3 separate regions of the Homo sapiens genome follow, and regions 1 and 3 are each reported to be linked to region 2. Evidence: microRNA targets listed by miRTarBase, many of them from high-throughput screens and not tested one by one. Region 2 holds a microRNA gene; each other region holds the end of a gene's coding sequence.

What was found. Region 2 holds the annotated microRNA hsa-miR-6748-5p (UGUGGGUGGGAAGGACUGGAUU, at 1,597-1,618, opposite strand). A microRNA usually pairs through its seed, bases 2 to 8, with sites in the 3' UTR of a target mRNA and lowers its output. Matches are read on the target gene's strand: a 7mer-m8 pairs with bases 2 to 8, a 7mer-A1 pairs with bases 2 to 7 and ends in A, and an 8mer does both.
Region 1: the mRNA of DNLZ is a reported target of hsa-miR-6748-5p. Seed matches in the 3' UTR shown: 7mer-m8 at 2,401-2,407.
Region 3: miRTarBase lists TNFAIP8L3 as a target of hsa-miR-6748-5p. The part of its 3' UTR that is shown has no 7-base or 8-base seed match.

What each region holds. Positions count from the first base shown.
Region 1 is chr9:136,359,229-136,362,476 of GRCh38, reverse strand. It overlaps DNLZ (DNL-type zinc finger), which reads left to right. Exons shown (of 3, transcript NM_001080849.3): 3 at 297-2,994. The coding sequence ends at 465. GPSM1 (G protein signaling modulator 1) reads right to left here. Exons shown (of 14, transcript NM_001145638.3): 14 at 2,876-3,248. Among named protein-coding and RNA genes, the nearest start is that of DNLZ, 2.9 kb to the left of the region's middle.
Region 2 is chr11:62,788,190-62,791,437 of GRCh38, reverse strand. It overlaps MIR6748 (microRNA 6748), which reads right to left and starts at 1,623; the gene lies at 1,553-1,623. It overlaps TMEM179B (transmembrane protein 179B), which reads right to left. Exons shown (of 5, transcript NM_199337.3): 2 at 2,228-2,415; 3 at 2,012-2,146; 4 at 1,759-1,837; 5 at 1,038-1,552. The coding sequence ends at 1,391. It overlaps TMEM223 (transmembrane protein 223), which reads left to right. Exons shown (of 2, transcript NM_001080501.3): 2 at 523-1,467. The coding sequence ends at 815. RefSeq lists an enhancer at 1-32.
Region 3 is chr15:51,054,980-51,058,227 of GRCh38, reverse strand. It overlaps TNFAIP8L3 (TNF alpha induced protein 8 like 3), which reads left to right. Exons shown (of 2, transcript NM_001311175.2): 2 at 1-1,627. The coding sequence ends at 347. The region is part of intron 1 of MIR4713HG (MIR4713 host gene); the gene reads right to left. Among named protein-coding and RNA genes, the nearest start is that of MIR4713HG, 19 kb to the right of the region's middle.

The sequences.
Region 1 (3,248 bases), not on the chromosome of region 2:
CCTGGCCCTTGGAGCTGGGACTGTCCTCCCATCAGACCCGGGGCTGCAGATTCTTCCCTCTGGCACATAGGGGGCAGGAGCAGGAGACTGGGTTCCTGAGGCGGCGCATACCGGCAGAGACACAGGGCTGGTGAGGGCACACAGGCCAGCGTCTGAAGTGCCCGTGTGGCCTGATGCCACAGGAGTGCTGGGCCTGGTGCTTGCAGCTCTGGCCTGGCCATGGGGCGCCCTGAGGGGACTGAAGTGCAGGGCGGCTGGGGGGCCCTGAAGAGCCATGTTGCCTCCCTGCCCCCCAGAAATATCGAAGAGATCCTGACGGCCAGAGGCGAGCAGGTGCACCGTGTGGCGGGCGAGGGGGCCCTGGAACTGGTTCTGGAGGCTGCAGGGGCCCCCACATCCACTGCAGCTCCGGAAGCGGGTGAGGATGAGGGTCCCCCCAGCCCTGGCAAGACGGAGCCGAGCTGACTCCTGCGCTCCCCGGCACTGTGGGACTTCGGCCTTCCAGAAGGAGGTTTTGGCCCTGGGCCTCTCTGGACGTGGCCTGTTTTCTATCAATAAACAGACATTACTTCCAGATGCTGGGGCCTGTGGCCCTCGTGGCCTTTCTTTTTCTGGAGTTAGAACGATTGCTCTGAATCCCTGGTGCTGCTGGGTGGGACATAGGAGCCGCAGGACCTCTCGCCTCACCACAGTTCCTTCTACACAGAGTCACCCAGCTCTTGCCCACAGAGGCCACAGTCGCGTGGAAAGGGGGCTGGATGTGGCGTCAGAGCCCTTCCTGGCTGTCGCTGCGTGACTTTGAGCAGGTCACCACCCCTGTGAGCCTCAGCCTTCCTCTGCAAGGCCCTTGCCGCCCCCCTGGCCAGCTCTGGCGGCCTCCCTTCCGTGAGCCAGTGCAGACCTGAGCCCTGGTCCTCGGCCGCCGGCCGTCGGCGAAACAGTGAGCAAACCAGGCTGCCTGCTGGCCCAGGCAGGACGAGCAGCTATGGCGTGGCCGTGTGTTAGGAGCTCCAGACCCCTCCCGGGGGAGCCACCTGGGCCTCCTTCCCTCGGTGGACAGCGCTCTGGACGTCCCCAGGGCCCTCCGAGGTGTGTGGGGTTTGTCTCCCAGCCTTGTCTGTGCGCAGGATGTTCCCGTGTTTATGAAAGCGAGCAAACACAGCAGCCTGTTTATTTGCAGAAGCGTTCTGGGCAGCGTAACCTTCAGCATTCATCACCCGCCACACTCCGGCAGGGAAGAGAATGGGGCGAGGTGGGAGGTGGAGGCAGGACTGAGCACGACAGGGACCCAGTGCGGCCCCTCCCAGCGGGACACGGCCAGGACTGCCAGCTCACATCCGGCCCGTGGGAGGCCGGGGCGCGGCGGCATCGTTCCCAGTGTGCTTGTGGCGTGGGCTTTGCCTCGATTACCCCCTGTCCTTCTTTCAGCCAACAACCCTCTATTATTCCCACCCAGAGCCTTCTGTGCCATTTGTGGAAACTGTCCTCTTCTCGGCTGAGCCACCGGCACCCAGGCCTGCTCCTCCATGGAGGCACTGGCTGGGGGTCTCTTGGGGGCTTGGAAGTGCAGTGGGGCTGGGCTTGGCTTGGCTGCCTCACTGCCTCCAGAGGGCCTGGACCAGCATGTGGGGAGGTCCAGGGAGCCGTCTGGACCTGGAAGTGCAGAATTAGAGCAAGGAGAGCCGCTTGGGCCAACCCCTCCTCTTACGGATGGGGAGATGGCGGCTGGTAGTTGGGATGTGGACGTTACCATGTCTTTTCTGTCTGATGCCAGCACCTCTGGGCCCAGGCTGGCCCTGGAGGGAAATCCTTCCCAAGGCTGGCACGTTCCTAGAGAAGACCTATGGCTACCCCCCGCGTGCCAGAAGCATCCCGCCAGCTCCTGCCTGAGGCCCCCTGGACCCTGTCTCCCTCCGCCCTTCCCTCCCCGCAGCCCCAATCCCACAGCCAGGTTTCTGCAAGGGGCTTTGCCATCCTAATCTCCTGCCACTCTACACCCCCCCGCCCCAGGACATCCCTGCCTCCCGGGCACGGTTGCTGGCCTGGGCATCCCTCGTCACAGCGTCTCTCCAAGCAGGTTCCTCGGCCGCACCTTCAGAGGCTGTCCCAGCCAGTAGCGTGGGCGGCACTGCTGCGCTTCCCTGGCTGTGCGCGGTCCTGGGCCCTGCACGGTTACTTGGACCCTGTGTGCGTGTACCACCACACGCAAGCTGGCTGGGACCCTGGACCTGGAGTACACGTTGATTCTGGTTCCCAAGGCCCCTTCTGGGGTGGAGGAGGCAACGGAGTCAACCAGCACAGAGGCTGTGGCTGCCAACATGGCCAGGTGGGCTGTGGCGAGGGGCAGCAGGACTGCCCGGCGCACCTGTGTGTCCCCTGACGGGGGCCCCGTGGGGGTGCCACCCACCACAAGCAGCGCCCAGACAAGCCCCAAGACTGCAGATCTGCCGTCGGCTCCTCCACTGTGGCTCAGTGTCCAGACCCTGAGCCCAGCCGGATCAGACTCCAGGAAAGGACCTCCCTCCCCCGGGTGCTGGGTGGGCGGCAGCAGGCTGGGTCCTCAGGGGGTCGTGGGGCTGACCTGGGGGCTGCTGCTTCTGGGGGCTGGTCCCGGCCACGTGAGTGTCAGCTCAGAGCATGCTCTGTTTCCCTAGGGGCTGGGAGCGTGAGGAGGTAGGGGTGCAGGAATCAGTGGTGACAGCAGGCAGCCACTTCACCCCTCTGTGCCCCAGCTCCCCCGTGGTTAAATGCAGTGGGAACTCCATCTCTCTGAGGTCTCAGAGGGCCCAGACAGTGGGTATCTGTGGACACTTTGCACAGTGCAGCCTCTTACCGGGTTAGGCCCCCACCCGGGACTAAGCCCATACGGACCACACTCACTTGGCCGACTTTATTTTTCAGGAAAAACAGAAAAACAAATGTACCTCTTGGGTTGGAAAGGACCCATTGACAACATGGCACAGACGTGAGCAATAAATACGCACATACATTCAAGTATGCGGGGGGGCGCTACGTCCTGGAGACCCTGTGTTCGGGCACCTGTCCCTGCTCTCGGGTGCGGCCCTGCCCCTCCAGAAGCAGGTCACCTCACCAGGCCCAGATCTGCCTCTCCATCCTAGCCTGAGAGTGGGGCCTAGAGGCACCCTCCTAGATGGAACTGCCAGCCCTGGGGGCTGTGGGGCCATGGTAGGGCCCTTGGCAGTCTTGGGAGGTGCCAAGGCTGGGTCTGGACAGGAGGAGGCAACCTC
Region 2 (3,248 bases):
AAAATACAAAAAATTAGCTGGGCGTGGTAGCAAGCGCCTGTAGTCCCAGCTACTCGGGAGGCTGAGGCAGGAGAATCAATTGAACCTGGGAGGCGGAGGTTGCAGTGAGCCGAGATGACGCCACTGCACTCCAGCCTAAGCGACCGAGCGAGACTCCCCTCTCAAAAAAAAAAATTGGGAAACAGTGATGTCTCCGAGCGCCGTGCCCTGTCATAGCCTAGGCTGAGGGCTGCCCTTCACTCTGCGACCTTGAGCAAGGTCCTTAAAGCTCTCCATCTTCCCATTAAAATGGAAACGGACATCTATTAAGGTTGTTGGGAGGAATAACAAGATTACTGGGTATAACAGGAGCTCAGTACTGCACTCCAGCCTGGCCGGCAGAGTGAGACTCAGTCTCAAAAAAAAAAGCGCTCAGTAAATACTACTTTCATCCCACAAATTTCTTATTCAGAGGGCACTGGAAAGGTCGGTACTTAGATGCCCAGTGAAAACCCCTCACCCCAATCTCTGCCCTGCCTGCAGGAGCCCTCGTACTCGGTGCTGGTCTTCTCTTCTCTCTCCGGTCTGTGCGCTCAGTGGTGCTTCGAGCTGGAGGGCAGCAGGTGACCCTCACCACTCATGCCCCCTTTGGCTTGGGGGCCCATTTCACAGTTCCTTTGAAGCAGGTATCTTGCATGGCCCACCGGGGTGAAGTCCCTGCCATGCTACCTCTGAAAGTCAAAGGCCGACGCTTCTATTTCCTCTTGGACAAAACTGGACACTTCCCTAACACAAAACTCTTTGACAATACTGTGGGTGCCTACCGGAGCTTGTGAAGAAATGACCTCAAGTCACTCACCTCTCCAAGAGGAGGATAAAAACTGAACCTTGGGGAGCCAGGTGTGTTGGTTCACACCTGTTGTAATCCCAGCACTTTGGGAGGGTGAGGCAGGAGCACTGCTCGAGCCCAGGCTGGGCAACATAGCGAGACCTTGTCTCTATTTACAAAAAAAAAAACAAAAAAAAACGCCAATCTTAGAATGGAGTAACAACCAGGGTCACACAAGGAGGTCAAGATTCATTAACAACAAATAAAGGAGCAGTCATCCCTAGGGCAGCTGCCTAACAGTACCTCTAAGTTTCAGTCCATGTCTGCTTAGCCTTCACTCCTTCCTCCTATCTAGTTGTACTTTAACATCAAAAACTCACTACTAAGATGAAGACAGTAATATAATATTTTGGTACAAAAACAGCTGCAGGAAGAGGTGGAGGGGGGCCTGTCATTATGTTTCCCCCCCACCCCCCAACGAAAGGAAAACTAAGACTCCCAACATAAACAGGGCCTTGAGGGGGGGGATTACAGGCACTTGGGCATGGAGTCTTCGGCTGCAGGAAGCACTCCGCTTATTCTTCAGGAATGGGAAAGGCGTGACCCAACGAGAGCATCTGTCTCAGAGCTCCACTCAGGGTCACCCCTCTCCAGAGGCCGGTATGGGGTGGCTTCAGACTTCCACTGCACGACCTGGAGCACCAAGACCACACACCACAATACCAAATTCACCCAAGAAGAGGTCTGTAGGAGACAGGGACAGGATCGTCAGGAGTGGGACCATTTCAAATCCAGTCCTTCCCACCCACACACCACTCTGAACTGCTGAATTTTAAGCTGACAACCCCTTCAGCTCCTCTCACTGGTAGGCCAAGCTCACAATACACTGGTGAGCACCCACACAGCTACAGATATTTATGTCAGTTTTTCCTCCTATCCTTGGGTCTCACTTCAGCATTGTGTAGGTTGGAGTAAAACTGCAGAGCAGTTCCAGGGGGTGTCCATGGAATTTTCTGGGCTTCAGAACAGCTGTGAGGTCAAAGAGACAGTTGTGAGAAAGCGTGATAGTTTATATCCGAGGCACACCTGTGCCCAGTGCCCTGTGAGTTGAGAGCAACTGATGGGGATAAAAGGAAATTATAGGACCCCGCTGCAGAGGGAAGGTAGTCAGCCCCAGCCAGGCTTCCCTCCCTCTCCCATTACCTAATTGTAGTGTTCAAGGAGATGATGGAGTTGCAGAGAGACCTGGTGCCAAATCGAAGGATACAGGCAGACACCAAGACCAGGAAGACGGCTATAGCTGAGATGGCCAGTGCAATGCGCAGCCCTATAGCACCTCTGAAAGGGAGAGAACAAGCCTTGTGGTGGAGGTGAGGCTCATCCTACCTCAGCCCCTGGCCCTCAGGGTTAGGCAGTCACCTGTGGGAGTCCTCGATGCAGCTGCTGTAGATCCAGAAGAGCAAAAGCAGGAGGCAGTAGAGGGCCAAGAGGCCAGAGGCCCCAGCTACAAAGTAGCACAGGGATGGTGCTGAGGGACGGGATAAGGCCAGGGAGGAGCCATTCAGGGTGGCCACACCATACAGGGGACATCTACCACTGAAGGAGCCCTGTGGAGAGAAGCTGCTGAGTCCTAGATTTCAGGTTAATGTCTCTAGATACAGTCTCTTGGTAGGGTGTTAGTGATAACTTAGGAATGGTCCTGCATTCCAGGAAGTTATTTGTGCACCGTCAATTCCTATTTCTGGGACAGGGATATTGATGGAGAGGGCCTGCTGGGGAATCACACCGGCAGTGGCCAGAAGGATCAGAAAATAGGCAATGAATATAGAATGCAATGAGCTTCAGAGAAGCCTCACAAGTTATGGTCTCTGTGCAGAAACCTTAGAGTAAACCCAGGCCTTGTATATCCTTCAACAAATAACTATCTGTGAGGTGCTTTTTTTTTTTTTTTTTGCTGGAGTGCAGTGGCGCCATCTCGGCTCACTGCACGCTCTGCCTTCTGGGTTCATGCCATTCTCCTGCCTCAGCCTCCTGAGTAGCTGGGACTACAGGCACCCGCCACCATGCCTGGCTAATTGTTTGTATTTTTAGTAGAGACAGGGTTTCACCGTGTTGGCCAGGATGGTCTTGATCTCCTGACCTCGTGATCCGCCTGCCACGGCCTCCCAAAGTGCTGGGATTACAGGCGTGAGCCACCAGGCCCGGCCAGTGTTTTTGTTTTTGTTTTTGCGATGGAGATTCGCTCGTCACCCAGGCTGGAGTGCAATGGCACGATCTCGACTCACTGCAACCTCCGCCTCCCAGGTTCAAGCGATTCTCCTGCCTCAGCCTCCGAAGTAGCTGGGATTACAGGCATGAGCCACCACACCCGGCTAATTTTTGTATTTTTAGTAGAGACAGAGTTTTGCCATGTTGGCCAGGCTGGTCTCGAACTCCTGAC
Region 3 (3,248 bases), not on the chromosome of region 2:
TCCTCTACCGGAACAACCAGTTTAGCCAAGAGGAGCTGGTTATTGTGGAGAAGTTCCGGAAGAAGCTGAACCAGACCGCCATGACCATTGTCAGCTTCTATGAGGTGGAATACACCTTCGATAGGAACGTGCTCTCCAATCTCCTGCATGAGTGCAAGGACCTGGTGCATGAACTGGTGCAGCGGCACCTGACGCCCAGGACCCACGGGCGCATCAACCACGTCTTTAACCACTTTGCCGATGTGGAGTTCCTCTCCACCCTCTATAGTCTGGATGGAGACTGTAGGCCCAACCTCAAGAGGATTTGTGAAGGAATCAATAAGTTGCTAGATGAGAAAGTCCTTTAAATGCCTTCCCTCCTACTGGACTTTGCTGCTTTAAAGTTACAGCACTCAACCATGATCTGGGTGAGAATCAAGAACATAAGCAGAAACCCTTGTCAAAGATGTCCATGTTCTTTCCTGTTCATCCCTCTGATGCTGATTCTGATGCTGAACTGAGCTCAGGTGTGTTTTTCTTCCAAGCTTTCTAGCAAGGTTTCTACTTAAAATCACCTGTGTGCAAGCCCAAAGGACATTTCATCTATTCTAAGCAGAAAGGCTGTTTTGTTCATTACAGTGAGTGCTGTTCATCTCATGGAGTGGGAGGAGCACTAAACCAGGAGACAGAGGACATGGATTTGGTTTCCAGCTTAACCAGTTAGGACTCTGTCCTCTGCATTCTGGAACCATGATGCCTGCCTGCCTGCCTCACAGGGCTGTTGTGAGGACCAGATGAGATGATGTATGTTCATACTTTTGGAATCTCTAATTTAAAGTCTTAATATTTTGTCTTCTGAGTGTGAGGGGATAAACCTGGATGTAGACTATTAAGCAGCATAGGAGAAAAGAACAATAGAATCTAATGGACTGGGTTTGCAATCTCTCTCTAAATGCACTGCTTCAGACAAAGTGAAATCCAAAGGTGTGAAAAAGTATAGCTGCAAATTGGAAAAATGTGTTTCAAGAGTCGTCTTTTTGGCCAGGCATGGTGGCTCACACCTGTAATCCCAGCACTTTGGGAGGCCGAGGTGGGCAGATTGCCTGAGGTCCGGAGTTCAAGATCAGCCTGGCCAACATGATGAAACCCTATCTCTACTAAAATTACAAAAATTAGCCAGGCGTGGTGGTACACGCCTGTAATCCCAGCTACTCAGGAGGCTGAGGCAGGAGAATTGTTTGAACCTGGGAGATGGAGGCTGCAGTGAGCTGAGATCACGCCACTGTACTCCAGCCTGGGCAACAGAGCAAGACTCTGTCTCTAAAAAATAATAATAATAATAATAATTTTTTTAAAAAGAGGTGTTTTTGAGGTCTTAGATGTTCAGGTTGATGATCCTGCAGAGGGAAACTTTCCATGGGGGGGTGGGGAGAGAGAGTTTTCCATCCACAATATAGAAACAGAGAAGCACTGTGCTCCCTCTGCAGGACCAGCCTTCCCTTATCTAAGGGGCATGGAGCTCAGGGAGGCTTTATTCCATATGCACGGGAGAATCAGGCAGAATGAACCCCTACCCATCTTTCTTGGCTTTTCAGTCATTTTGTGCTGTTTTCTCTGGTTCATTAATAAATTGAAACTGCCCTCCAAACAAGAGATCTTAGAGTTGTGATTCAAAATAAAATTCCTTGGAGTTAAATACAGTGTTAAGAATAACAGGATTGAAAAGAAGAAGAAAATGAAGAGCAAGAGTTCTGCACTCGAACCCCAAGAGGAGGTAGATTCAGGGGAGCACAAGTGGGTGGATCTGTGAGATGGTCAGTGGGGAGCTAGTCCACAGACACAAACCACCTTCTCCAAATGTCACAGCCTTGCTTTCACAGTGCAGCTTCTGACATCTTTTCATCATAGTCTTAACCAACGTCAGCAACAATGTACTTCCTTTCAACACTGTGCCACATTAAGAGACTTGCTCCTCTTGCCTTTCCTTCCATCCTCCTCTGCTTCTCTTCTAATGATAATATAAAAATACCATACTAGCACAGCCCTATGGTTCATCCCACCCCACAGTCTATCTCCAGCAGGAGCATCAAGAGATGGTTTGTGGGGAGGTGTGAAACAATGTCCACTGAGCCTCGCTGGCCATTCAGCCTCAGCTGGCTCTCATGTCAACATCATAGCAAACCATCTAGTTACGTTCTTCAGCCACGCAGCCAGAATTAGTTCATAGGAAGGCTATTCAGTATGGAATATGGAGGAGTAAGGCCAACCCCTGTTCTCCATATTGGACAAACATGGCCTAGCCCTCTACTCAAACCCAAGGGCTGAACAATGATGCCCTGTGCACACCTGGGCTGGGGAGATGGCTGGTCATTTGGCACTGCTGGTGGGAACTACAGGCAGTTGGCTCCCCTTCCTTCCCACCTGCCTGCAAGGCACCAGTCCAGCAGTGCTGGATTTTCTCATGCTGTCTTCAAGGTTTGCCTTGATGTATTTATCTGACAAAAGACTGTTTTCTTGTTCAAAAGATGGTTCTAGAAGTAGGTTCACTGTTCATTAAGTGGACCATTACAGAGAACTCGGACCCAAGAGGAATGAGTGAACTTGTCTTCTGTCCGTGTGAGATACAGTGGGGAAGAAAGCAGGATCCTCAGCTAAAGAAGGTGTTGGGTTCTCTCCTGGCTCTGCAGGCCACAGCACAACAATGGTGTAGGAAGAAGGCTGAGTTGGGTTCTGACAGCCCACAAGTCTCTAAGGAAACTGGGTCCTTTCTGCTTTGGTCAAGGAAGGATCAGCACCTCCACCAGTGAATCTCACCAAGTGCAATGGCAGAGTGTGGACCAAAACATTTTCTGTTACCTTAGGCTCTCCGCTGAGGGAGCCAGTGGGCTGTCTACCTAAGACCCCCAGATTTAGCAGCAGCAACCAGTGGGGATCTGGGCTACCTGGGCACAAGAACTCCTCTAAAAATACAAAGCCAAAACCAATCCCATGTGCACATTTCAAACATACGATTTGCATCTAAATCAAGTGATTCTTGAATTTCATCAAGCAGCTGAAAGGCCTACAAATTTCAAATATTTTACATAACAGTCTAGTGACCAAAGCTAGCTTCTCATTATACAGTCCTATTGGTTTATCCTAAGTACTCTAACCACATCACCTGGTGGCCCTGAAAGGCTGTTTTGGCTGAAAAAAATGTGACAGAGGCCAGCAGATGCTTTGGAAAGCAGGACTCTAGATGTGAATTTGTGCTCAGAGCTCTGTACAAA